Linked DNA regions of Homo sapiens. The protein of the gene in region 2 interacts with the protein of the main gene of each other region in a pairwise test. Each region holds a gene or a part of one and is shown on either strand. Other genes may lie near its edges. The genes, in order: SLC71A2, TPRG1, HSD17B11 and CGRRF1.

Region 1 (7,004 bases), on a different chromosome or scaffold from region 2:
GCCACTTAGGTTTTTTTCCATCTTTTGGCTGTTATGAATGCTATGAACGTGGATATACGCGTTTTTGTTCTGTCCCTGCTTTTTAAAAATAAAAATACAGATGGTCTCCAACTTCATGACAGTATAAAAGCGATACCCATTTAGTAGAAACCATACTTCAAATTTTGATTTTTTTTCCCAGGCTGGCGATATGTGGTATGATACTCTCTCGTGACATTGAGCAGTGGCAAGTGAGCTGCAGCTCCCAATCACTATGCACTCAGGAGGGTAAACAACCAACCAATACTCTACTGTGCTGATACCGAAAGTGCTGAAGCTTCTAAGCTGTGTTAATAATGCATTTGCAATGTATGATATTTTCAACTTACAATGGGCTTATCAGGATGGAACCCCATCGGTAAGTCAAGGAGCATCTGTAGTTACGATGTTTTTTTCAAGGAGCATCTGTAGTTACGATGTTTTTGAAGGGAGACTTTGAAGGAATTTTGTTAAAAATAAAATTTTTTTGAAAATACATACCTTTTGCATCAGCTGAAAGATTACAACTCAGTTTAATTGAAAGCCACCCAACAGAGAACCCAAAAGAGCAATACTATTTGCTTTAAAAAAAAGACACAAGACATAAAAGTAACCACTGTAAATTTATTATGCATTAGGAAGCTTAACCTAAAAACCAATAGCATAGTAAAAAGATATGTTATCTCTGTTCATAGCAGAACAGGTTTCAAAATATATTTTCTTTTAAATGTATTCAGTCAGTACACAATCCTTTATAAAAGTTGTATATATTTTTTTCTGTCAATACCTTCATTACATTTATAAATACAAGATTTACACAGCACCCCATCAAAAAAAAAAAATTAAAACCCTTTACAAATATCTACATATATTTCATACCTATAAAACTTTCAAAGGGGTGCTCTGTTAAAGGTGGGCCCTAGTTAATGGTCCATTTACTGGTGCAGCAAAATACATATAAATCTGTAAAGTTTTCTTTGTCCATAAAACATCTCAAAAAATAGCAAGACACTTATCGTGAAACTCAGCTTCATAAAACCTTATTTTAGAAAGGAACTTAATGTGCGTATTCCCATGCGATTCAAAAGTTAAACAGATTGAAATAAAGATGAATTGAAAACAAATGCATACTCAGAGCAGTTAAGGCAGGAGTGTGATGGATGAGAAAAACTTTGAGAAGCAGGACATGGAAGACATGGGAAGAAGCAAATCATAATAATGCCTTTGAGTCTGAACTTGGATATAAACTTCACTCGTATCCAGTTACTAACTCTCATCCTACTTAGGAATTTCCAAATTGTTAATAACTTTCTTAGAAGCAGCCTACAATCTCTATGTTGCCACCAGAATGCTTGAGTTGTTTTTTTCTTCTGTAAAATCACCTTGGACCCAACCAGGACACCAGGTCCAGGAATCTGAGTTGTTGAGTTTTACATGATTTAAGTTTGTAATGAAAATTTCTTTCATCTAGTAAAGGTAATTACTATTCAATATTATTATGTCCAGAAGTGTATATATGCTGAGTTTCATTCTAGCTAAGAATAGAAAGTAGAATAAAAGGAGACTAGGTTTTTATTTGACCTTTGAACAAAGACAGTAGATCCCTGATACTGAGTGACTCTTTAAGAGTGGCCACTCATCAACACCTATGGGCTGATTCAGAGAAACAGGAAGGTAGAAATTAAGAAGAGATTCTTTACCTGAAATCTTGCCAGAGATGGCAGTCCCGCTACTGTTCTGTGCCTTCTGCTGAAAAGGGCATGGAAAGATTGCTGCCACTCTTACTCTATAGTCATTACAGGAAAGCCATCCTTTCTACCAGAGAGATGACTTTTTCTATTTGAGTTTCACCTTGGGAGTTGCACATTATTTGCAAGGAAGTATTTCAAATCTTATCTTGTTCTAATGTATAAACAGGAAAAAAAAAAAGAATGTAAGAGAAAAAAAAAAAACAGGAGGAGGATGAGCAGAATGATGGCGGTGGTATTTATCAAACTTGGCCCTGAAGGATGCCGCTAGCGTCTCCCATCCAGCACCATGAAGTCACCAGGGGTGTGGCTCCCTCCATGGCTCTCAGAGATGGCGTATGCAGAATCCCACTTTCTGCCGAGTTTACAGCTCAGTGCACTGATTCCCAGGCTCCTCAAATGAAGAGAGCTCCCAGATGCTGCTGTCTTGCAGTAGTGGCTCAATGTCCTCATCACTGCCCCGTTCTGGGGTGTTGGTCAGGCTGCCGCTGCTGCTGTTACTGTGTTTTTGAACTCCACTGGCTTTACTGTATTCAGGAATGAATAAGGCAACCAGAAAAGACATAAGGACTATACATGCCCCAAATAAAAACGGCGGGCCTGGGATGACAGCTCCCTGTTGAACGTGGAAAACAAGTGGAGACAAAGAATACAGTTAGTCTTTTAACTCAAAATTATTCCTAGATTACCCAAAAAAAACACACCACCAAAAAGTGAATCATATTCTCATAAGCAAATGTTTCATTAAATGTCAAGGCAAACTCCACTAGAGCTTGGTGTTTGGAATATGACAAAGGGCAACTAATTAACTGCTTTTTGTACCACTTCCAAATAGCTTAAGCAAAACTGTAAGCTTGTAAGCAACAGCTGTTTACCTATAATCCCATCCTATGACTTCAGATCATGCACCTTTGTACATGAACATTAATTCCAGCTTTGTATAGATATGGCTTAGAGGGAACAAGGGAAGAAATTTCAAATAAATAGTACAAAAAGTACCCTACCTCAATTTTTAGCTGGATTTTTAGGTCATTTCAAATTTTAACTAGCCTGGGCTTATCCAGAGAATAGTGTAGTGATTGTGTAGGTGAAAACAGAATCTGAACAAAGTTAAGACATATCTTTTACATAAGATATTAAATCACTAAAATGACCCCTCCCTGATCCCGAGAAGCAATGAACACAATACTTATTGCTGCCAAATAAAATATAGTAACATACAAGAAAGAATGCTCTCCAAATTTAAGGTCACAAGATTTTGCTATAATCATACATAATTGTTGTTACAAAACTAGACTTATGACCAAATTACCTGCAGGGGAACGTTGTTAGAATTCAATTTCGGGCCCAACTCAGTCAGTTCCACATGGAACATGTAGAATATGAAGCCATACAGTGCTGGCCCCAGGCCATTGCATAGTCCTCTTATTCCAGTTATGATCCCCTGGGCAACTCCTAAATCAGAACAAAGAAAATAATGCCAGTCTTCTCAGAAAGGCATCTCAAGATTTGGAGCTGCACAGTACTTTCTCATAACCATGATACACTAATTCGGCAAGACTGAGGAAAAGAGAAAGCATGCTAATGAAAGTAGATTAGGAAGACTTTATCCATTATAAAATAAAATCCAAAACTAATAAAACCATATAAAACATATAAAATCATAAAAACATATACAATCCAAAACTTTAATATCTTCCCATTTCAGGCAATGTCCACTTTTCTGTCAACTGAGATTTCCCTGCTCTGGTCATTTACTGGTGCTTTCACAACAAAAACTTGCCCTTCACCTCTGGCAGCCCTGGTGTCAGGAATACAGACCAGTCCCCAGTAGGCAGACTTCATCTTCACAGGTGTATTCCAGCCTATCTCCCTAGAGACCTACACTGAAAAACCCAGAAGTGCCAAATTCCTAAATATCTCTGCTTTCTAACATAGCAAGTAAAAAGTTAGCTTGAACTGTATGAAATGAATGTTTCTGTAAATCAAAAATGGTAGTATATAATTCAGCCTAATACAATGTGTTCCAAAACTTTTATATGCTGACATTCAGAAACATGTATATTGACATGAATAAGTATAAAAAGTCAAAAGAAAATCCATGCCCCAAATGACAGGACGGTGTCTGTCAGATGCCAAGGCAGTGACAGTCCTCCACGGATGGGTCATCACATCTTCACTTCAGACACAGCACCTCCCTAAGGATGCAAACCAACTGAGTTACTGTAGCCAGGAGTGACATACAGAATGTGTGGTCTTCAAGGGACAATATTTAACAATGAATCTGAGTAAGATACCTAACTTCTGATATAGAAAAAAAAAATGCAATGAATAAACCATCCTTTCCAATATAGTTTTTTACTAAAACTTTTAAAAAAAAGGGCTCTTAGGCATTAAAAAATTTTTCTCCCTCTAAAATTGTCTACTTCTTCCTGAATACAATAAGGTGAGCCATTAGGAGATAGAGAAGGAAAGAGATTAAATCTAGCCATGGGAACTGCTTGAAAGGAAAGCAGTCCAGGCATGGGGGCTCACACCTGTAATCTCAGCACTTTGAGAGGCCGAGGCAGGCAGACTGAACCCAGGAGTTCGAGACCAGGCTGGGCAACATGGCGAAACCCCATCTCCACTAAAAATACAAAAAATTAGCTGGGCATGGTAGTGTGCGTCTCTAGTCCCTGGTACTTGGGAGGGTGACTGGGAGATCACTTGAGCCCAGGAGACGGAGGCTGCAGGGAGCCAAGATTGTACCACTACACTCCAGCCTGGGTGACAGTGAGACCCTGTAAGGGGTAGGAGGTGGGGGGTGGGGGGAGGAAGGGTGGGAAAAGAGGGAAGAAGGGATGGAGGGAGGACAAGACAGGACAGGAAGGGAAGCAGAGGCATGGGAAGGATGGGATATGGATCTAGATGGTAGAATGCTATTTTCCACATAGCAGTCTTAATTTTAATTTCATCTCTCACTCAACATCTATCAACAACCACACAGACTTTTTCTTACTACTCTCAAACTATTTTCTAAATTAAGCTCAAAGACTTTGAGTTATTCCAAATAATTAGTGAATAAAGTAATTAAGTAACTCGTGGTTAACTGGTTTTTCATTATTTAATAGACATCTGTTAAAATGTGATTATAGTCTGCTTAATTGTGACACTAAAGAAGAAAAGATGTATCAAAACTGAAAAGGGAAAATGAATAGTTCTATTTCTAATTGTTAGCAATCTGAACTGCTAAGTCTAGCTTTAAAAAATATAAGTGTAAGATCAAAGCAGAGAGGAAAATAGAATGTTCCTATCTGCCAAAGTAAATAGGTATGATAAAAGGGGCCATATGGCTGTCGGCTCCTGCTGTTGATGGGGAGAACTCAGAGCTGCTCCTGCTTCTAGCAGGGAGGTCTCCCGTTGAAGGAGAAAAACAAGTGGGGGGCAGTGACCTCACCTTGCTGATCTGACTCTGCATTCCGAGAGACGAGGGCACTGATTGCCGGAAACGTGATGCTGGACATGGCAGCCACGGTCCCTGCTGCCCACATCATCCTGCAATGACAGGACAGGCACAGTCAGGCAGCAGGTCAACCTCAAGGAGCTCACTATTCGGAATGCAATCAGTGGCAAAAGTACAAATGCCTTGTTTTCTCCTGTTACATTTTATTTATTTTTTCCTCTTTAAAAATGCATTTTTTTTTTAACCTACAAGGTTACATGTGACACTGGAGGAAACGAATGGCCTAGGATGGGGACAGAAGGGCCAGGAAACCTTTGTGTCTTGATTTTACTTCTTTTACAAACTTTTCTTCTCCCTGGTCTCCCTACTGCTATCTTTAGACATAAGCTCAATGAAGTTCGCAAGGAGATTTCTTTTGTTGCTATAAATACCACATTTTCTCCACTGACCTTTCATTTTTTCTTTGTACCTCTTGAAGGCTCACTTTCACACTGCCCTCGAGCTACAGCTTGCTACCCCTCAACAGAGAGAGCATGGTGTGCCCCCAACTGGAAAAACAGACCTGCCTTCCTCTTTAGACCTTTGTCCTCCTCTCAATAAGAGTCTTAACTATGTATCAGTATGAAGTGTGAGTGAGTAAAGTGAGGCCCCAACTTTGGGATGGTCATTACTGAAAAAGAAAAACCTCACATGATGACAAAGTCTTTTTAACACTACATGAATGTGACTAAATCAGCTACTGAACCAAAGTTCACAGGAGCAAAATCAAAAAGAACAAGGAGAATCAAGCAAGTTAATCTGGTAAAAAGTCACAGACGGCTAGGGACAGTGGCTCATGACTGTAATCCTAGCACTTTGGGAGGCCAAGGCAGGAGGATTGCTTGGGCCCAGGAGTTCAAGACCAGCATGGGCAACATGAGACCTTGTCTTTACAAAAAAAAAAAAAAAAAAAATCAGAATATTAGCCAGGCATGGTGTAAAAAAAAAATCAAAATATTAGCCAGGCGTGGTGGTGCGTGTACATACTCCCAGCTACTCAGGAAGCTGAGATGGGAGGATCGCTTGAGGCTGGCAGCAAGGCTGTAATAGTAAGCCATGATTGTGCCACTGTACTCTGGCCTAGGCAACACAGCCAGACCCTCTCTCTCTCAAAAAAAAAAAAAAAAAAAAAAAAAGGAAAGAGCAAGCGGATCAAATGAAATTCCAAAATTCAGAAGGGGCATATGTACTTACTCCCCAAACTAAACATGATAACTAAGGCAATTCTAGTTTCTCTAAATTATGTTGTCTGTTTGTGTCCAAAGTAAGGACCAGCTCTACCGTCTAAAATGGAGAAGGCATTTCTGCATCTGCCCACCAGGCACATGGAGAAACCTGCCACATTAACAAAACAAAACTCACGATTCCTTCTAATTTTTCTTATTCCACTGAGCTTATTTGGACCTTCCTTCCTGTTTATGGGGGAATCTAATATGGTAGTAATAACTGCGGCAGAATGCACATGGTTTTGGAAGAAATTTTAGTGTTCAAACTCAAATGATTTATCAAGGTTATGTTACTGATAGGTAATGATAAGTCATAGTGAAGCTTGCCATAATCAGTCATTTTTTTTGTATCTTCTTGTTTTGCTTTTGACTATATTCAATGTCTCTAAAAATTAGCATATGTGGCCAGGTGCGGTGGCTCACGCCTGTAATCCCAGCACTTTGGGAGGCCGAGGCAGGCAGATCACAAGGTCAGGAGTTTGAGACCAGCCTGGCCAACATGGTGAAACCCATCTCTACTAAAAATAC
Region 2 (7,030 bases):
GAGACAAAGAGGAAATAAGAGGGAAAAGAGCAATGACAATAGAGTGTTAAGACAGTGTTTTTGAAAACATGGTCTTCAAAACCCTCTGCGATCCATGGACATTCCATATGCAGCACCTCTGAGGCCTAGAAAGAAAGATGCCTGTGGCATTCTCATCTTCACTCCAACCGCATTGAACCTACTTTTATCTGCTTCGTATATGCTGCTTCTACAAAAGATTTCTTTAGAAGAAAAAGGTCTGTTATTAAAAAATATATATTTGAACAAAAGATGGTATAAGTAAATGAGCTAGAAACCAAGTGTAGGATAGATTGAAACAGTCAGCCTTGGAGTAGGGATTCCATTTAACAGGCTGTGGTAATAATTGGTTGAGCAGAATTAAAAACCTGATCTAATAATACAGCTATAAGAATGGAAAGGAGGAATACATGAACAATTTTGATAAGAGAATGAGCTTCAAGTTTGACATCTGGGCATCGGAATACAATGCTAAGCCGTATAGAGATGTGATCATATATAGGATGTCATGGCAAGGAATTTAGAGAAATCAAAATTGACAGACTTCAGGGATGGATAACTGGGACCATATAAATACCACAGGATTTTGATAATGCTCAATTAAGAGGCCACTGGGACACTGATATATAGATGATTAGCAGTCAGAAATGCAAAACTGAGTCTTGGAATAAATATTGGGAATGGGAATATAAATTTGGAAGTCATCCTTATCAAGTGGTAGCTAAAATACTAGAGACAGTGAGACCCCAATGAGAGAATAAATCAGGATAAGAGGGCTGAAGACCAAGACCTAAAAAAAAAAAAAAAAAAAAGCCTACATTTAGAGAGCTGAAGCAACAGGACTTAGAGTCTTCTTTCCTGAGTTGATGATCAGGCACTCATTTGATAACAGTATTTGATAGGCTCAGCAGCATTTATTTTCTAGTTTTAAGAAAATTTGATTATTCTTGTATGAGGTCTAAAGTGTGTATCTATCAGTCCAATCAAGCTTTTAAATTTTCGGAAATACTAAATTTCTAAATCATAAAGCGTCATTTAAAAATAATTAATTGTTTCAGTCCAAAAATAGCGTGGGTCAAACTGGAATTTTCAAAGTGACATATCTGTGGATGATATGCTTATGGTACCAAAAAGACTCTCAAAAACCAATACTCCCACGGGCAAGGGAATAGCCAAGTTTGTTGCGGTTTCCAATGAATGACATCAGCCCTGTGTAGGTCTCAATCAAAATGGGTTCAGTTAACACCATCAGTTTCTTTCCTCTTCCAGATCCAGTTGAATTCTTGTGGGCATTCTGGATAGCTGGAACAAGCTTAGACATGAACCCAGACAACTGAAGAAGAAAAAAAGAAGGCACAAAGTTAGTTACTGTAGATTAAGTTGAGAGATACTCATCTCCCCAGCCAGTCTTCACAGAAGTTGACTACTCTCCTGGGGCTGCAGTTATTCTTACTTCTTAAACATAAATGGTTAAATTTATCTCTATTAAGTTAATTCAGTTAATAACTGTGCTTAAGTCCATTAAGACTAACTTTCCTCAGGCCCAATTTTGCTTCTTAATGTCAGAAATAATATGTAATTTTTTCAGTTTGTTTATCATCCACATAAGTCTACCAAGTACCATTTTAGTTTTAGCTGCTTTAATATTTTGTTAGTATACAAATAATTTGCATCGGTATTAGTACTGTAAACTGACTCTCTTTGTCACTAATAGATGAAAGGGCATCTGAAATTACTTAAGAAATATTGATGAAGCGCCTACAACAAGTTCCAGGGACATTTTAAGTTGAACAGACAGGCAAAAAAACCCCGCTGTCATGGAGCTCACATTCTCGTGATTGCAGACAAAAAATATTCATAAAAATTTTGAAGGTGATAAATTCTAGAAGGAAAATAGAATGTGGTAAAGGGATAAAAAGTAATGAAAGTTAGAGTTACTTCACATACTGTATTCAGGGCAAGTCTTTCTGAGGAGGTAAAACTTCAACTGAGACCCATACAATGAAAAAGAGCTAGTTACGTGAAGAAGAAATTCCAAGCAGAAAACACAGCACCTGCAAAAGCTGTAAGGGAGGCATGAATTTAGCTTCTTCAAGGGACACAGAAAACGCCTTTTAGACAGAAGTCTAGTGATCAAAGGAAAGAGGTTGAAGCACTAGGCATGAAGAGTCTTCAGGGCCATATTAAGGGCTTTGGATTGATGTGATTTTAGGAAGGAGTTCAATGTTGTATGCTGTTATTTTACAAATAATAATAATCCTAGCTACTGTGTGGAGTCAAAAATAGAATGCTCTTAGGGCTAAGAATGGAAGCAGGAAGACAAGATGAGTTTGGAGTTCACTTCAGGAGTCCAGGCAAGATACGACGGTGGCTTGGACAGTGTAGCAGTAGAGACCATCGGAACTGGTTAAATTAGGGATTTGGGGGGCAGGGGGTTCAAGCCAAAGAATGTGTTGGTGTGATTGAATTTAGGGATGAAGAAATGAGAAGGAAAAAAATGACACCCAGGTTTTTGGCCTGAGCAACTGGGTAGATAGCGATATTATTATTGAGTTGAGAAAGCCTAGGAGAGGTACAGATTGGAAATGGTAAGATACAGGGATGGAGGATTTTGTTGCAGACACGTGGTTTGAGTTACCTCACCAGAAATCCTCTTAGAGATTTTCAATAGGCAACTGGATATAGAATCTGGGACCATGAAGAAATATACAGATAAAAAGTCCATGTCTATAAATTTTTCATAATAATAATCACAGACCCAGAAGTCAAGAATGATATTCATAAAGTGAAGTTAATAGCCTAAACATGATAGGATATGGGACAGAGAGTAGGAATTAAATTCAGGAAACTCTTGTTGGATAAGATACTAGGCATTGTGGGCAATGTAGAGGGGATCTGGTAGGTAAACTGAGGATCTAAATGTTACAGGGATCTACCCAATACCAAATAACTAGTAAATGATTGAGCAAGGGCTTGGACTCAGGTCTCCTGACTTAACTCCTGAAGTCCTCTCTTTATAACATTGCTGTTATGAGCAGGAATTATAAAATTCTAATTTTTAGAAAATTTAGTTTTAAAATTCTGATATTTAGGGAAGAATTCATGTTCCTCATTTGCAAAAGGGAGAAAATATTACATTCATTAATTTTTAAACCATGTTCTTTAGAACACTAGATCTCTTCACAGATTGGGTGGGTACATATAATTTATCATCCAAATCTAAATTCTCTGGAAAAGAAAGGAAGTGCTATGTGAATAATGTTGGGACAGCAGGTACCTGAGGCTTCGAGGAGAGGATGTCAACAAAAAGCCAAAAGCCAAGCAGGTAACTTATTTTAGTCTCTTCAATCACATCAGAGCTGCTCTATTTTTATGATCAGTTTTATATATTTGAGTTCCAAGTAAGATTTTACTTCTTTTTAAATGAAAATCACTTGCCTAGGAAACTTCAGCTCTGGCAATCAATGATTTAATCCAAAAAGATCTATAGTGCCGACTCTCCAACACATCTCTCAAAACCAAGCTTAAATCCTGTATCTTCCACAATGCCTTCCCACAAACTCAAGGGAAAAGTTGACCTTTTTTTCTCTTATGTGTTTCCTATACCTATACCTCCACTCAAATATTTCATCTGGTTTTCTATGAAGTAGAGTCACAAATGTGGCTGTCTGTACAGCTAAACCAAAGTTTCTTCACCTTGGGACTATTGCTATTTTAGGCCAGACAATCTTTTGCTATGGCAGAGAATGTCTTCTGCATGTTAGGATGTTAAGCAGCCTCCCTATCCTCCTCCCACCAGATACCAGACAGATACCTCCCTGTGTATAGAAGGAAGTCTCCTGTAATAGAGGGCACGCCCGTCCAATACCCAGTACTTGAAATCACTTGAGAAGTCACGCTGCTGGACAGACTGTATATATCATCCTTGCATATTTTTTCCTGGAATTATCCTCATAGAGACCCTGTGACTATAAATTCAAGTGTGTAGAGACAAATAAGAAGAGGCAGTAGCTCCTTTTTCCTTGCACAAGAGAGGTTTCTACCCATCGTAATTTCCATCCTCATCCTATCCCATGCCTCAACCCTCCTCTCTGAACACATGCAGATATATGCACACACATACAAGTGCACTTTAAACTTAGCTAAACTGAATTAGTCTTTATCAGAGAACATTTTATATACCTTTGTAAGTATACATTTGATATGACAACCGATAATATCTCACTGGGACACTGGGACATTGTCATATGTCCCCCATGGGAAAAATCACCCTCTCTTGAGAACCACTGAACTAAAGGAAGTATAGGATCAGGCAGAGGGGTCTTAAGTTGGAACTATGATACTCACATAGCTGTGTGACTTTGGGCAAGTTATCCAACCTCTCTGAAATTTATAGTTCCTTTGCCATAAAATAAGAATATTAATAGTATCAAACTTATCAGGTGGTTGTAAAGATTAAGTGAAATAAAGTGTTTGTATACACGCTGTGAATGGAGGGGTGCACATACATGCACTTGTGTGCTCACATATTATATAAAGGATTAGGAAAGCAGAATGAGATGAGCCTGAAATTTGGAGTTATATTGCAAAGGCCATAAAGGAAGCTTGTTGCCAGGAATCAATAAATAATAACTGCTTAATCATCACTGACATCATCCTCATCATCATTACCAAACCATGATCTCTTAAAAATCAAAGTATAATTCATCTCAACAATTCTATTGCAACAAAGTCTGGATTATCCAAAGTCTGGATTATCAGGATGCCTTTTCATAGATCAGTAAATCTTGTCCAGTTGGATTACTGAATGCTTCCTCTGGCTTCATCATAAACTTCTTTCCTTAAGAATCCTCTGTAGACTCAAAATCAAAGTGCTAGAAAGTAAAAGTTGGCACTATTTCATACTCAATGAATTTGGCATTTCATTGGAGTCAGATGGACTTCATTTCCAGTCATTTCTAGGAGCCCCTTCAAAGCCAGGGGAGGGCATGGTTACAGAGAGACAAGCAGGGTGACAAGCAGTGCATTGAAGGAGAGGCAGACAAAAGGCCAAGTCCCCGAGCTGGCTCTTGAGCATTTCAAGCACCTGAACTAAATCTATGTGACAGGAACGCTGTGTCATCTGATATGAATGCCACCAGCCACATACTTTTCCCTAAAAGCTTTTATGCACCCACCTCTGGCTCTCTCTTTTATTTCAGTCCCAAATACAGAGGGTCAGGTTTTAACAACTCCAGTTACACAGGGGCTGTGTGTTGGTTAGGATAAAGTATAGCAGCAGTGTGCGTGGTGGGGACAGGGGGGACATCGTATTATTCTTGACTTTCCACCAATTATTTACCAGCCGAGTGCCTGGTCCACAGGTTTGCTTTAGGTGCTGTCTGCCAACAGTTCATTGCCTGGAGTCTCAGTTTTCCTTATTACAACCATCACTGGCTTCCTGTTTACACTGGGTAAAGAGACCAGGTTTCATGCCTGTAGGCCCACATTCCTCAGTTGAGCTGGTTTTCTGAGCCTGCAGGCTACAGGTTTCAGCCTCCCTGTGTATGGAAGGAAGTCTCCAAGTCTCCTGTCATAGAGGGCACGCCCATCCAATACCCAGTACTTGAAATCACTTGAGAAGTCACACTGCTGGACAGACTGTATATATCATCTTTGCACATTTTTCCTGGAATTATCCTCATAGAGCCCCTGTGACTATAAATTCAAGTGCATAGAGACAAATAAGAAGAGGCAGTAGCTTCTTTTTTCTTGCACAAGAGAGGTTTCTACCCATAGCAATTTCCATCCTCATCCTATCCCATCCCCCAACCCTCCTCTCTGAACATATGCACATATGTGCACACACACACAAGTGCACTTTAAACTTAGCTAAACTGAATTAGTCTTTATCGGAGAACATTTTGTATACCTTTGTAATTCGCAGCTTTTAAGCATGTTTCCTCTAATTAAAATGTCTTTTCCCACCTTCTTTGGTGCTTAAATCACCCATACCTTGAGTTTCATATCAAATGTCATCAGACTTGTTAACTTTTGGACTTATCTGTTCCCACTTTTGGGCTCCCCCTATTTACAATCTTAGTACTTTAAATTATAATTTGTGAAAGTCTTTGCTGCCTCCTCCCCCTACGCCGTAAGTATCTGTAGGGCAAAATCAGTTTTATTCTTCTTGGTAATCCAGAATATTGCTCATCATGTAATGGTCACTGCCAGGTAAGTACTCAATGAATATTTGTTGAATTGTTGTAAAAGGCAAACAAAGGGCTAAGAGTATAAAGTTAAATTTAATTGCTAAAACATTGGTTCATTTACATGATCCCCTTGAAAAGATGGATAGAAATACAAGAAAAGAGTACAAATGGTTGGTCTGTAGATCATGATGGTTGTAGGGCACACATAATGCGTTCACTGCTATTCATCAGTTCTGGGTTCAGTACTCATCCTTCCCAGCAGTAGTCTCTGCATACTGTAGGAACCCAGCAAAGCGATGGTTAAAAAAGAAAAGGTAAGGCTATAAGTTGCAAATACAAAGTGGATGAAATAATTGAGGATAATTGAGCCAGGTTTTGAGATACAATATTATACCATATCACATCAATTAATACAAATGTACACACAGTCTCTCTCTTTCTCACCCCCCCTTACACACACACACACACACACACACACACACACACACAATTCTTTCAGGCTTATACCCATTTCCTTGAATATTAGGAAACTGGGTATAACATAGAACTATTATTATATGATTTCAGTCACTTAATCCCTCTGAATAACTGTCCTCATTTTTTTTTAAAGAGACAAAATCTTGCTCTGTCATCTAGGTTGGAATGCAATGGTATAATCACAGCTCACTGCAGACTTGCACTGCAGACTCGAACTCCTGGGCTTAAGCAGTCCTCCTGCCTTAGCCTTCCAAGTAGCTGGGATTATAGGTAACTGGAATGGGAATACTGGTACATGCCACCATGTCTCATTAATTTATTTTATTAAGTTTTTTTAAAGACAT
Region 3 (7,030 bases), on a different chromosome or scaffold from region 2:
CTAGATTGTTTTTTTTTTTTTTGGTGTGACTACTAGAAAGATTAAAATTATATACATGGCTTGCGTTATATTTCTATGAGACAGTACCGGTGTAGAGATTTAAAGGGCTGGAGCTACAGATGATAAAATTTCCTGTATTTTGGCTTTTTACTCTGGGGAGTCAATGAAGGGTTTTGAGGGTAATTCCTATTGAAGAGGATCCTCCAGCTGCTGGGCTTAGGAGAGATGTAAGAGGAGAAAAGATGGAAGGAACAAGTAAAGTAAGAGACTACTGTGATAATCCAGGCATGAGATGAAATGATGGGGACTATTGAACCGGGTTGGCAGTAGCAGAGATTCGGAGTAATGGTCAGAAAAATTGAGGACAATGTAGTGAGTTTTTATTAGGTTAAATTAGTTTAATTTAAATAATCTATATTTTATTTTGAGATTATATCCTTCCTACTTTTTGTGGGTAAAAAATATATTTGTTAATGAAATTACATGATAACATATGAGGGTCATTTTGTTAGTTTTGAGTGTCCTTATTTGGCCAAAAGTTTGGCAATCCTAGTTCGGTATACACATCCCACTCTATTTTTCTTGCCGTTTTATAGATTTGAAATTATAGAAGGCTGAGAACCACTAAACCTGATTGGGAAAGGACAGGGTGGGGATTTGGAGCAGTCCAGGTAGCAGAAACTGGAGATGTGAAGCTCTTGGGCTGGTGAATACCTGGAGAATGAGGAAGAAAGTGGAGTGGTGTTTGATTGTTATGAGATCTAGCTGGCAGGGCAGGGAGGGGCCAAACGGAGGGCCCTTTCACCTAGAGTACAAAGACAATCTCTTAGATTCATCCATGTAATGAGGACAGCAGTGTCCACATGTACCATATGTTAATTTAGGGAAGAATTAATGGTGGTGTCAGCTTTGTTGTTCCACTAAGCCTGATAATGGGAATTATTCATTCTGCTTTGTGATAATCTATCACTTCTTGACTATTCTCATTCCCATGCTTGGTTAGAATAGTTTGTAGCCAGGCATGGTGGCATGCTTCAGTAGCCCCAGCTACTCAGGAGGCTGAAGCAGCAAGATTGCTTGAGGCCGGGAGTTCTGGACTGTGGTGCGCTCTGCATGTCTGCATAAGTTCAGAATCAATATGGTACCTTCTGGCGGTGGGCATGAAGGAGACCAAGTTGTCTAAGGAGGGGTGAACCAGCCAGGTTGGAAACGGAACAGGTCAGAGCTCTGGTGCTGTTCAGTAGTGGGATCATGCCTGTGAATAGCCACTGCACTCAACCTGCGCAACAGGGAGACCCTTTTTCCTAAAATACTAGTTTGGAAAGAAAAATTTACAGTAAGTGGTGAGCATATAATATATGCTCAAAGACTATTTGTTGAATGAAAAACTGAATTAATGAATAACTGAAAGAATAATGGGCATAATTTAAAAAGTTTTTCAATTTTTAGTAATCAAGGTAATGGGTGTAAAGGTCTTAGTTGTACCAATAGACAAACATATTTGAAAAAAGTTACCAAGGGAAATCTTGAAGAGTTATGAGCAATTGTACTGTGCTGCAAAACATTTTAAAGGAAGAATTCATTTTTTTTTTGAAGATCTGCTTATTTTTTATTTCTTACCAACTATCTACAGGGCACTGTCCGGAATTTTTTCTGGAGGAATTTAGAACTTAAATTTGTTGCACCGGCCGGGTGCAGTGGCTCACCCCTGTAATCCCAGCACTTTGGGAGGCCGAGATGGGAGGATCACTTGAGGCCAGGGGTTCAAGGCCAGCCTGGGCAACATGGTGAAACCCCGTTTCTCCTAAAAATATAAAAATTAGACGGGTGTGGTGGCGCATGCCTGTAATCCCAGCTACTAGGGAGGCTGAGGCAGGAGAATCACTTGAACCGGGAAGGCAGAGGCTACAGTGAGCTAAGATTGCACCATTGCACTCCAGGCTGGGTGACAGAGCGAGACTCCATCTCAGAAAAAAAAAAAAAAGTTTCACAATTCAGAAGGTGTGGAAAGCAGACCAACCTAAATGAGGAAGACCAAGGAAACAGGGCAAAAGTGAGACAGCGGATGTGAAAGAAGGGTATCTTTGCATCCATATAGTGGAGTGGTGGTTAGTTGCTTGGTGGTTACAGAAAGCCAACCAGTAATAAGCAAATCTCTGAAAACAGAATAAATGGGACATAAATTTTTATTGTAAAATTTGTTCATGTAAGGAAATATATTTGTTCAAAAAAGAGAAGACCCAATCAATACAATATACTTTTTTTTTTTTTTTTGAGATAGAGTCTCGCACTGTTGCCCGGACTGGTGTGCGGTGGCAAAATCTTGGCTTGCTGCAACCTCTGCCTCCCGGATTCAAGTGATTCTCCTGCCTCAGCCTCCCAAGTAGCTAGGATTACAGGTGCCCACCACCACACCCAGCTAATTTTTTATATTTTTAGTAGAGGCAGGGTTTCACTATATTGGCCAGGCTATTCCCAGAATCCTGACCTTGTGATCTGCCCACCTCAGCCTCCCAAAGTGCTGGGATTACAGGTGTAAGCCACCGCACCTGGCCAATACAATATACTTTTAAAAAACTTTTTAAAATATGGTAAAATATATGACATAACACACCATTTTAACCATTTCTGAGTGTACAGTTTAGTGGCATTAAGTACATTTACCTTATTATGCAGTGATCTCTTCTATTTCTCTCCAGAAATTTTTCATCTTCCCAAGATGAAAATCTGTACCCATTAAAACAATATATCTCCCCAGCCCTCTCTCTCCCCAGGTCCTGGCAACAACCATTCTATTTTCTGTCTCTATGAATATGATACTCTGGGTACTGCATATAAGTACATTCATATGGTATTTGTTTTTTGTGTCTGGCTTATTTCATTTGGCATAATGAAGGTTGTACGTGTAGCATGTGTCAGAAATTCATTTCTTTTTAAGGCTGAATAATATTCTATCCTATGTGTATACAACATTAATATACTTGTAAAAGGAAATGCCAAAAGCTGCTGGTTAAGTATAGGAGAGCAAAATAAAGTTTACCTGAGATGTTGATGTCCCTTGAGGAATAAGAGTTCCTCATGAGAGTATACTACAGTTTGTGAGGGAGATTTCAGTAAAAGAAAAATATTGTGGGAACCTGCCCCCAATATTTCAATGTAGCTTCTTTCTATTTTCCATAAGTGTCAGCCGGCTGAGAAATAAAGAGAGACAGTATAAAGAGAAATTTTACAACTGGGCCGCTGGGGGTGACATCACGTATCATGATGCCCCTGAGCCTCAAAACCAGCAAGTTTTTATTAAGAGTTTCAAAAGGGGTGGGGGTGTAAGAACAGGGAGTAGGTACAAAGATCACATGCTTCAAAGGGCAAAAAGCAGAACTACTGATAAGGGTCTATGTTCAGTGGTGCACATATTGTCTTGATAAACATCTTAAACAACAGAAAACAGGGTTCGAGAGCAGAGAACCGGTCTGACCACAGATTTACCAGGGCAAAGTTTTTCCCCACCCTAATAAGCCTGATAGTACTGCAGGAGACCAGGGCGTATCTCAGTCCTTACCTCAACCACATAGGACGGACATTCCCAGAGCAGCCATTTATAGACCTCCCCGTAGGAATGCATTCCTTTCCCAAGGTATTAATGTTAATATTCCTTGCTAGGAAAAGAATTTAGCAATATCTCTCCTACTTGCACATCCGTTTATAGGCTGTCTGCAAGAAGAAAAATATGGCTCTTTTTTGCCCGACCCCACAGGCAGTCAGACCTTATGGTTGTCTTCCCTTGTTCCCTAAAAATCACTGTTATTCTGTTCTTTTTCAAGGTGCACTGATTTCATATTGTTCAAACACACATGTTTTACAATCAATTTGTACAGTTAACACAATTATCACAGTGGTCCTGAGGTGACGTACATCCTCAGCTTATGAAGATAACAGGATTAAGAGATTACAGGCATAAGAAATTATAAAAGTATTATTTGGGCACTGATAAATGTCCATATTAAAATGAAATCTTCACAATTTATGTTCTTTGCCGCGGCTCCAGCCGGTCCCTCCATTCGGGGTCCCTGACTTCCCACAGGAGAAAAAGAACTTGTTTCCCTTTATTATCATAACAGTTTCACTATGCAAGCTACTAATTCTCCCCACAGCTGTCCAGATTTGGCCTTTCCAACATTAGTTGCCATTTACAAATGTGTACACTGATTCACCATCCTCTCTGTGGATAAATGTATGAGTCCTCCTAGGGTCTGCCCATTAGTGCATTAGTTGACAATTATTAGGTTGATGCAAAAGTAATTGCAGTTTTTGTCATTAAACTAATGGCAAAAACAGCAATTACTTTTCCAACAACCTAATACTTGGCCTGCAGAATGCACAATACTAGATCTTCATCCAAAATATCTTTTGAGACATTCTCTTAAAAGTTAAAAAAAAAAAAAGGCAAAAATTGGCCAAAAGCAAACAAGCAAAGATAACAACAACAACAAAAAACCCCAATGGTATGATCCTAAACTTAAGTTGACTCAAAATTGGCGCCCCAAATTGGACTCATAACCCCTTTTCCTCAAATCTGCTGTCATCTCTGTCTGACATGTGGCAGCGTGATCTTGCCAGCTACCAAAACTAGAAAGCAAAGATGTCAGATGTGGCTCCTTCCCATCCTTCCTCATCTACTCACCAAGTCTTACTGATTTTACCTTCTAAACATATATTTTAAAGGATATTCTTTCCTCTACATTTTTTCTACTAATGCCACATTTCAAGTTTGTGTCATCTATTACCTGAATCACTGTAACTGCCTCTCAGTTTTTTTCTTCCTCCAGTGTTGACCCCTAAAATCCACCCTCCATACATCAGCCAAAATAATCAATACGACACATAAACCTGACACTATAATTTAATCAGTGGCTCCTCATTCATTTTTTGATAAATCTTAATATGACATGTGGGACCTTAATCTGAACTTCTTCTGGCCTTGACCTTTATGATCCATCCAACAACACTAATCCTACTAGTGGTTTCCACAAGACCAATCTCCTATCTGTCATTGCCCACACCCTGCCTGATGTGTCCTTTCACCCTGGGGAAAGCAAGTGAAAGGGCATGGCAAACCACTGCTGGAATTGTATTGTGTGCCCCTCTGTGTTCCCGTAACTCCCTGTATAGAACTCTGCTGTGATACTCATCACAATGTATTAGGTTGAAACTGCCAATATTCAATCTTTTATTATCAAAACAATAACAGTATTACGTGGTCCTACTTAACTATGATACTTATGTTTCTTTCTACTACACAGAGAACTTCTTGGGGTCGGGACTCTACCTCATTCATATTTGTGTCAAGGTTTTTCTAAGCTCAGTGAATATGACCTTCACATTAAAATGCTGAAAGAACAAATGGTTTAATGAACTGTGGTTAACTCATTATTTCTTTTGCAGACAGTAAACTGACATCCATGAATAGTTTTTAATGACATGGAAAAAAGTTTAATGTTACATTTTTTAAAGCCTGATATGGAATACACAGAGATACCAACATTCACAAAGTATTCAAAGTTCATAAATATAAAAACTAGTATTTTAAGATTTTTATCTTCTTTTAAGAAGCTTGCTTTAAATTCAGCTCCAAATAAAAGAAGCTAGTCAAAATACTAAAAGCAAAATGTGCCTATATACCTGCCAAAAATGTGTTGTTAACAATCTTGCCCAATTCAAATGGAAAGAATCTCACTACTTTTTAAAAATTATTTTTAATTATTTTCAGCTGTCGATATAATATGTTCATATCAATTATTACCTTGCCCTCTTTTTTGCTTTTTCTAGCATGGACTGGAGGAAACAGCTGCCAAATGCAAGGGACTGGGTGCCAAGGTTCATACCTTTGTGGTAGACTGCAGCAACCGAGAAGATATTTACAGCTCTGCAAAGAAGGTGAAATGTTGTGTTTAGTTAGAATCATATCATGTTAGAGCTAGGAGGTGTTTTGGAGATGACCCAGTCTGTACATGATATAGATGAAGTACCTGAGAAATGTTGTTATTTGACCAAGGTTATAGAACTAGCTCATAGCAAACCCAAAACTAGAACCGAGAACTGAACCTCTCAAATATTAGTATGTTCTGGAATTTTCCAGGGAGTTGTTAAAAATGTATATATATACTCTTGGGCTCCACTTCCAGAGATTTTCTTTCAGTAGGTTGAAGGCAGGGCCTCAAATACATCCACCCTGCCTCCCATGCGCCTTCATCTCACCCATGATGCTCATATAGGTAACTATGCCTGGATGACACTTGCAGAATTGCTGACAGGGTCTTCTGAAGCCCATTCATAGAATTGGGTTAGAAAGTTACAATAAAGCTATTCTTTATCAGGTTTTTATTGTAGATAGATCTATTTCTTTTCTTTTCTCTTTTTTTTTTTTTTTTGAGATGGGGGGTCTCACTCTGTTACCCAGGTTGGAGTGCAGTGGCATGATCTCGATTCATTGCAACCTCCACCTCCCAGAATCAAGCAATCCTCCCACCTCAGCCTCCCAAGTAGCTGGGACCACAGGTGTGTGCCACCACGCCAGCTAATTTTTTGTATTTTTGGTAGAAAACGGGGTCTCACCATGTTGCCCAGGCTGATCTCGAACTCCTGAGCTCAGGGGATCCACCCACCTCAGCCTCCCAAAGTCCTGGGATTATAGGCATGAGCCACGCTCCCAGCAGATCTATTTCTATAAAGCATTATTTGCCTCTTCTAGATACAATTGAGATGTGCTGTATATAATGGGGTTTCACTCTGAACGCATTCTCGCTTGTACCTGTTAACTAAATACCTTAATGGCAGCAAGGTCATCAGAATTACCTGGGCAGATTCCTTAAAATACACATTCCTGGACCTTACCCCTGGATATTCTAATTCAGTGCAGTATAAAAAGTGTGATTCAGCAAGACTTGAGAACCTCTTTGTTTATGGAATTTTTGGTTTGAGTTCTTTTTTTTTTTTTTTTTTTTTGAAATGGAGTCTCACTCTGTCGCCCAGG
Region 4 (7,030 bases), on a different chromosome or scaffold from region 2:
TTATTTTTGGATGATAGAATACAGATTATTATACTTCTCTCCTTTTGGCTTATCTACACTTTCTAATTTTTTTTCCTGCCACAAATGTATTATTTGAATAATACTGAAAAAAAGCCAATGTAATTAACTAAAAATGAAAAAATTTTAAAGTCAAAATTTTGTAGTAACAATTCCTGCTTTCCTTTTTTTAATCTAAAACAACAAAGTGGTTCCTAACTGTACTACCTAAATATAATTCTTTGCTGTTAAAATAAAAATGATTTTATTAATAAATTTTTTAAAAAAATATAGTCCCTGACACGCACATACAATACTGAAAAAACACATATGAAAAAGAAATAGGAAATGGTCCATTTGCTTTTAAAATTATAAACAGAGAACATTAATACAAAATACACTAATAAATATATTTGAGTGCCAATATTACCCCCAATCTAAGAAATAAGACGAGAAGCAAGGATTAACAGGAAAAAAGGAGGGAGCCCACAGATGAGAATAAAAGACATTCAAAAGGACCCAGACACAGAGACATACACAAAGCACAAGAGAAGATGGCTGTTAACCCTTGGGAGACACTCAGGCTTCCCTATGGGAACAAGCCTCCCACAACTACAGCTGGGCCACACAGTCTTCATCCAGTGTGATCAGGGACCTGAGAGCAAACTCTTCTCTGGCCTAAAAGGCCACTGAACTGAAAACACACACACAAAAATGGTTAAAATGGTAAACTTTATATATAAAATATATATATTTTACCACACAGATACACAATCACTCCCTGTTTGGACAGGGGAAGAAAGTTAGAAAAAAAAAAAGACCCTGAGCACCTAGAGAGCACTATCAGTGAAGGGAAAAGGAATGCAATGGGGAAGCTGGGAGGGAAAATGACTGCGATCTGATCCTTTTGTGCTGAACCAAAGGAAAAAGGAGAACAGAACCCAAGAAACTCAGCAGAGATGGGGCACACAGTGGGGGCAGAAGGGCTTCCTTGCCCAAGTACACAGGGTCAAGAACAAAGAAGCTAGAAATAGGAGACACCAATTTAACAGGTTTTATTTATCTCTAACTGAAACTGAGAGAAAGGAGGGAGGAAGCCAGAAGGCCTCTCATGCACGCTAAGGTGCATGGGATGTACAGCTAAGGTGTTTCGCTGTCAAGCTCTATGAGGCTCATTAACATTGTCTAGTATGACTTTTTTTTTTTTTTTTTACTTATCAAATCTTTATTGAACCCCTATTATATCCTAGGCACTGTACTAGGTTCTGGAAATACACTACTGCTGGTATGACTTTTGTATTTTGTATTTTTATTGTATATATTTAAGGTGTACAACAGGATGTTTTGATATATATATACCTAGTGAAATGGTTACTATTATAATGCAAATTACGCATCATCTTACACAGTTACTTCCACTTTTTTTGCATGTGGCAAGAGCACCAAAAATCCCAAAAGCAATACCACATTAACTATAGTCTTTATGCTGTACATTAGATCTCTAGACCTGTTCATTTTATGTATCTGTAACTTTGTCTCTAGTGACCTACATATCCCCATTTCCTTCCCCTCTGCTCCCCATGACTTGGAAAAAATAAGCTGACCTCAGCTCAATGGAACTTCAGTTTGAAAATATTAAAAACCAAAAACCTAGGTGCTTAACTGCAAATGAGTAAGAAGGGTCTAGATTTCCCAAAGAGTCTTTACCTTCCAAAGCTCAATGTACACTTGTTGCAGGAAGATATTCCTGCTAAAAAAAATAAACTCAAAAAACAAAAACAAACAAACACACACAAAAAGCTCAGAGTCAAGCTCTTGTTCCATCTCTTACTGCCTGAATGACTGGGATTTTTCTTGACTCTGTTTCAGTCTGTGAAAGGAGAATATTTGCCCTGTCCTAAGAAACCAGGTTGTTAGAAGAAAAAAATAAGTTCATGTTTGTGAACGTACTTTGCATATTACGAATATCACAAAACAATGTTACCATATGTTTATTAATGAATAATCTATATTAAATACTTCAGAAAAGTAGTCAATTGTGTGTAAGGACATTTTTACCATGATACAATTTCATCAAAAGTTTATTTCATGTCTAAGTTTCTATTATACTCAGATGATTGTCAAAGTTTCAGTCCTCTTAGATCTCTAAGATACTTTTAACTTCCTAATAGGAATCAACTATCAGACTGAAAAAATAATTAGCACATAATGAGGAAAGGAGATTATTATAATTACTGAAAATACAGGGACCAGACATATAAGATATAGGTGCAGCAGGGACTTTGATGGAAACAAGGTGACTGCAAGCAGGCAAAAAAAGAGTGGATACTATCTTAAAATTGAGCACTTTCGATCATTATTGTGCTTATTTATTCACTGCTAAACATGTTCAGAATAAACATGCTTCCCAACAGACTGTTTCTATACAGCAAATATGACAGAATACAGAATGATGAAATTAACTTAATTCAACCATTATATATCTTTTATTTCCCAAATAAAGTCATATTACTGTGATCCATAAGGCAAAAAATGAGTCATACTCTGAAGGTACTGTTACACATATAAAAACTAAATAGGTGTATACAACCAAATAGGTGTTAATGATGAAACTAACTTAATTCAACCATTATATATCTTTTATTTTCCAAATAAAGTCATATTACTGTGACCCATAAGGCAAGAAATGAGTCATAATCTGAAGGTACTGTTTCACATATAAAAACCAAATAGGTATATAGTTGTTGTAGGCCAAATGCACATCCTCAGAAATTAAAATAAAACTTTTTCTATTTATCAAATAATGAAGAACCACCATTCAAATCACTTAAAGGTAATGCTTTCAAAATTTTCAATTACTTACAATATCATAAATTTCCCGGTCATCCTCATCAGCTAAGGTCAATAGCGCTACCAATGGATAGCGAGATCTGGGTACTGTACCAAAGTCTTCAATTTTAGTATCTCTTGGTAACTGGCAATATATTTCTTCTTTGCTATCCTTTTTAATACTTTTTGAAAATGTAAAGGTAAATTGCCACTATAACCATAAGAACAAAAATACACCAAAAATGATCAATAAGTTAGCAACACTTTATCCATAAGAAGTCTAATTTTCAGTGCTAATGGGTATATCAGATAAAAGGATACAAATACTGTTCCTGATAGAGACATTCACTCCACAGAGCATCTTCTAATGCTTGAGGAGTGCTTATTCTGAAGCAATAAACATGCTTCTAGTATACCAAAAATGATCAATAAGTTAGCAACACTTTATCCGTAAGAAGTCTAATTTTCAGTGCTAATGGGTATATCAGATGAAAGGATACAAATACTGTTCCTGATAGAGATATTCACTCCACAGAGCATCTTCTAATGCTTGGGGAGTGCTTATTCTGAAGCAATAAACATGCTTCTAGTATACCAAAAATGATCAATAAGTTAGCAACACTTTATCCATAAGAAGTCTAATTTTCAGTGCTAATGGGTATATCAGATGAAAGGATACAAATACTGTTCCTGATAGAGATATTCACTCCACAGAGCATCTTCTAATGCTTGAGGAGTGCTTATTCTGAAGCAATAAACATGCTTCTAGTATACCAAGAATGATCAATAAGTTAGCAACACTTTATCCATAAGAAGTCTAATTTTCAGTGCTAATGGGTATATCAGACGAAAGGATACAAATACTGTTCCTGATAGAGATATTCACTATACAGAGCATCTTCTAATGCTTGGGGAGTGCTTATTCTGAAGCAATAAACATGCTTCTGCAGAGCTTCATATAATTTTTGAACACTGCACCCCCAGTAGCATGTAAGGAGGCTATCTTCAAGGCAATCTGTTGTCAAGGTTATGCCAGCTGTAAAAAACAAAGGAGAAAGAATGAAAGTGATTTAATGTAACTTCTAATACAATCATACAGGGTGAGTAACAAAAGCTTCCTTTTGGATGCTGGCCAGGATGATGGCAGTTAAAAGAACTTGTTAAAGGGTATGCCTCCTATAAACGAAGGAACTGGCCTCTGTAACAAGAGATATAAAAGCTCAATGTCTACACATTTTTTGAGAGCTATCAAAAAACTATTTCTTACTATTTATCTATTAAAGCTTAGAAACTGTTAATTTTCTTTTTTGGCGACTCTAAGACATTTCCCATCTAGATTTTTAAAACTAAAATACAGTTCACTATTGATAACCTACCACTCTCATAGTGTATATGATCCTAACGACAAGAAACAGTGCAGCAGAATACAGCTGTCCTCTAAAGGGGATATGTACAACCTATAGGCTCCACAACATGATCGCTGTTGTAAGAAAAATATTAAAAAGAAACTGAGCTTTACTAACATTAATGTATACATTGACAACATTAACATACAGGCTTGTCACAGACTTAATGTCCCATGTAATATGCAAAATATCCTGAGGAAAAGAGTGGGGATTCCAAAACATAAAGAGTTTAATAGTGGTATCTTAATTCAGTTGTTCACTTTCAACTTAAGAAGATATAACAATTTGAGTAGACCTGATTAAATGGATATACAAATTGTAAGTAGATGTGAAATTATACAGTTTTATTTAACACTTGTATAGGACTTACTTTGTGTCACCTATGTGATTTCCCCCTCCTAGTGGTATTTGTAGCAATATCACATTCAAGGGTAGCAACATCCAGCCTTTCATACTGCTGGGGGTGCAAACTGTAGCAGCGCAAACTGTAACGTGTAGTACTCCTTGGCACTGATACACTGACTAGATAAAAAGGGCCTGGTTTTGGTCATTGTTCCTGGCTCAACAGCCTTGGCATCTGATTTTGGCTCTCCAAACCTGCCAGCAATTCTGTAAGCTACCCAATATCCTTTTATTGAAGTTGTTTCTGTTGCTTGCTAATAAGAATTCTGATTGATATATTACCTATTTTTTAAAATGTGATCAAGAGTATATGTTAGAAGAAGATACACAAATACAAGCAGATGCTCCACAGGATACCAAAAACTGATTTTTCCAATTTTACTCTCAGTATTTAGTAGTATGTACACACAGTCTGAGAGTCTGAGTAGCATTGATACATGGCCATTTCTAATCATACTTAAGGAAAAATTTTAATTGGTAGGAACTTTGCATAGGTTAATTGGAGCAGGCTTTGATTTCAAATTTTTATGATTCCAATCATCAGGTATTAACTCAAGAATGAAAAATTCCATTTGATATTAAATAGCTGAAGGAAAACATTTTATTTATACATACACAAATACATATACACACATATACACACACATACAAAATCACACATATTTTTCCCTTTGTCACTGTAGAACCACATAACATGAGGCAGAAGAAAAAAGCTGGAGGTAGATACGAAAGGAAAAAATAGAAAATGCATATTTTAAAACATTGAAAAAGAAAAAACAAGAAACACAAAATGATTATTTATTATTGTATTACTAGCAAAAATGTGAAAAGATATATGTATAAGGCTACTCATTATAGCACTAGTTATCATAGCAAAATGCTGGAATAAACCCAAATGTTCATCAATGCGGATTAAATGAATAAATATAGTACTCTACAATAAAGTACTAAGAAGCTATTAAAAGTGAATAGGAAGGCGGAGGTTACAGTGAGCCGAGATCGTGCCACTGCACTACAACCTGGCTGACACAGTGAGACTCTGTCTCTTAAAAAAAAAAAAAAAAAAAAAAGAATTGAGGTATATCAGAGTATCTGCACACACTATTATGAAATGATCTTCAGAATATATTAGTAAATGAAAAAAAAGCAAGGTAGAGAAAATTAAATATATATGCTACTGTTTATCTCACAAGAATGGATACCCATATATGTGTTTGTTTACATTAAAGAAGAACAGGCTGGGTGTGGTGTTTCATGCCTGTAATTCCAGCACTTTGGGAGGCCAAGATGTGCAGATCACTTGAGCCAGGAGTTTGAGACCAGCCTGGGCCAACGTGGCAAAACCATGTCTCTACAAAACACACAAAAATTAGCTGGGCATGGTGGCACGCACCCGTGGTCCTAACTTCTTGGAAGGCTGAGGTAGGAGGATCACGGCTGCAGTCAGCCATGATCACACCACTACATTTCCACCTGGATGACAGAGTGAGACCCTGTTTCAAAAAAAGAAAAAAAAAAAAAGAACAATGGAAGGATAAGCCTTTTAAAACTCAACTTACAGCTTACAGAACATATAAAACTACCCTGTTTATTTGCTTTGTAAAAAGAAAAAAAAAGCCAGAGCCCCAAAGATTCAGAGCTACTTAAGAGACTCGTTTATAGACTTTGTATACTTAACTAAAATGGGAAGAGTGTCAGAGACCTTTGACAACTGGAGATTAATCAGATCTTAAAATGTCTCTAAAATTAATTTAAAAAAACTACAGAATCTATAAAATTATACTCTCCATAATCTCTTTTTTTAATGTTATTATTATTATACTTTAAGTTTTAGGGTACATGTGCACAATGTGCAGGTTTGCTACATATGTATACATGTGCCATGTTGGTGTCCTGCACCCATTAACTCGTCATTTAGCATTAGGTATATCTCTATAATCTTTTACAAACTTGTCCATTACATAAACTGAGGGGAGAATGTAATGATTTCCACTATCTGAAGACAGTGTCAGTACCCCCATCAAAACTATTCTCCCTTTACCTTTTCCACTTTTTTTTTTGCAAAGAGTTTCAATTTTTATGTATTTTTTTGCCTTCTAAAACTCAGTACACACATGACATCACTTTAGATCAATAGCATTAACAGAATTGGGACGTAGCTGTAAGAAAATTCAGAATCAAAATAAGTGAAGCACATGGGTGTGGTATCTCTCAAACTGTCCTTACCCAGACTATCTATAACAAGCAAATAAAGCGGAGTGTAAGAGACAGCCTTGCAAAAAAGTGAAAAAAATAAGGACTGTAGAAAATATGCTAAGCCACTAAAAAGGGAGAAATGATGGGGCGGAAAAGCCACAAACCTTCTTGAGGAAGGATCCCTGTGAGAGAAGCAGTAA

Evidence for each region.
Region 1: the proteins of TPRG1 (region 2) and SLC71A2 interact in binary tests that used the Homo sapiens proteins (3 or more experiments, as listed by UniProt).
Region 3: the proteins of TPRG1 (region 2) and HSD17B11 interact in binary tests that used the Homo sapiens proteins (3 or more experiments, as listed by UniProt).
Region 4: the proteins of TPRG1 (region 2) and CGRRF1 interact in binary tests that used the Homo sapiens proteins (3 or more experiments, as listed by UniProt).

Annotation. Positions count from the first base shown.
Region 1 is NC_000009.12:94,454,539-94,461,542, reverse strand, and holds the end of SLC71A2 (hippocampus abundant transcript-like protein 1), read right to left. Parts: intron 5,304-7,004; coding exon 5,206-5,303; intron 3,222-5,205; coding exon 3,079-3,221; intron 2,383-3,078; coding exon 2,131-2,382; 3' UTR 501-2,130; downstream 1-500.
Region 2 is NC_000003.12:189,314,947-189,321,976, reverse strand, and holds part of TPRG1 (tumor protein p63-regulated gene 1 protein), read right to left. Parts: intron 6,485-7,030; coding exon of another isoform or gene 6,449-6,484; exon of another isoform or gene 6,284-6,448; intron 1,352-6,283; coding exon 1,157-1,351; 3' UTR 1-1,156.
Region 3 is NC_000004.12:87,381,159-87,388,188, reverse strand, and holds part of HSD17B11 (estradiol 17-beta-dehydrogenase 11 precursor), read left to right. Parts: intron 1-5,826; coding exon 5,827-5,934; intron 5,935-7,030. UniProt on the Homo sapiens protein: Can convert androstan-3-alpha,17-beta-diol (3-alpha-diol) to androsterone in vitro, suggesting that it may participate in androgen metabolism during steroidogenesis.
Region 4 is NC_000014.9:54,526,881-54,533,910, reverse strand, and holds part of CGRRF1 (cell growth regulator with RING finger domain protein 1), read right to left. Parts: intron 3,863-7,030; coding exon 3,685-3,862; intron 3,009-3,684; coding exon 2,861-3,008; intron 1-2,860. UniProt on the Homo sapiens protein: Able to inhibit growth in several cell lines.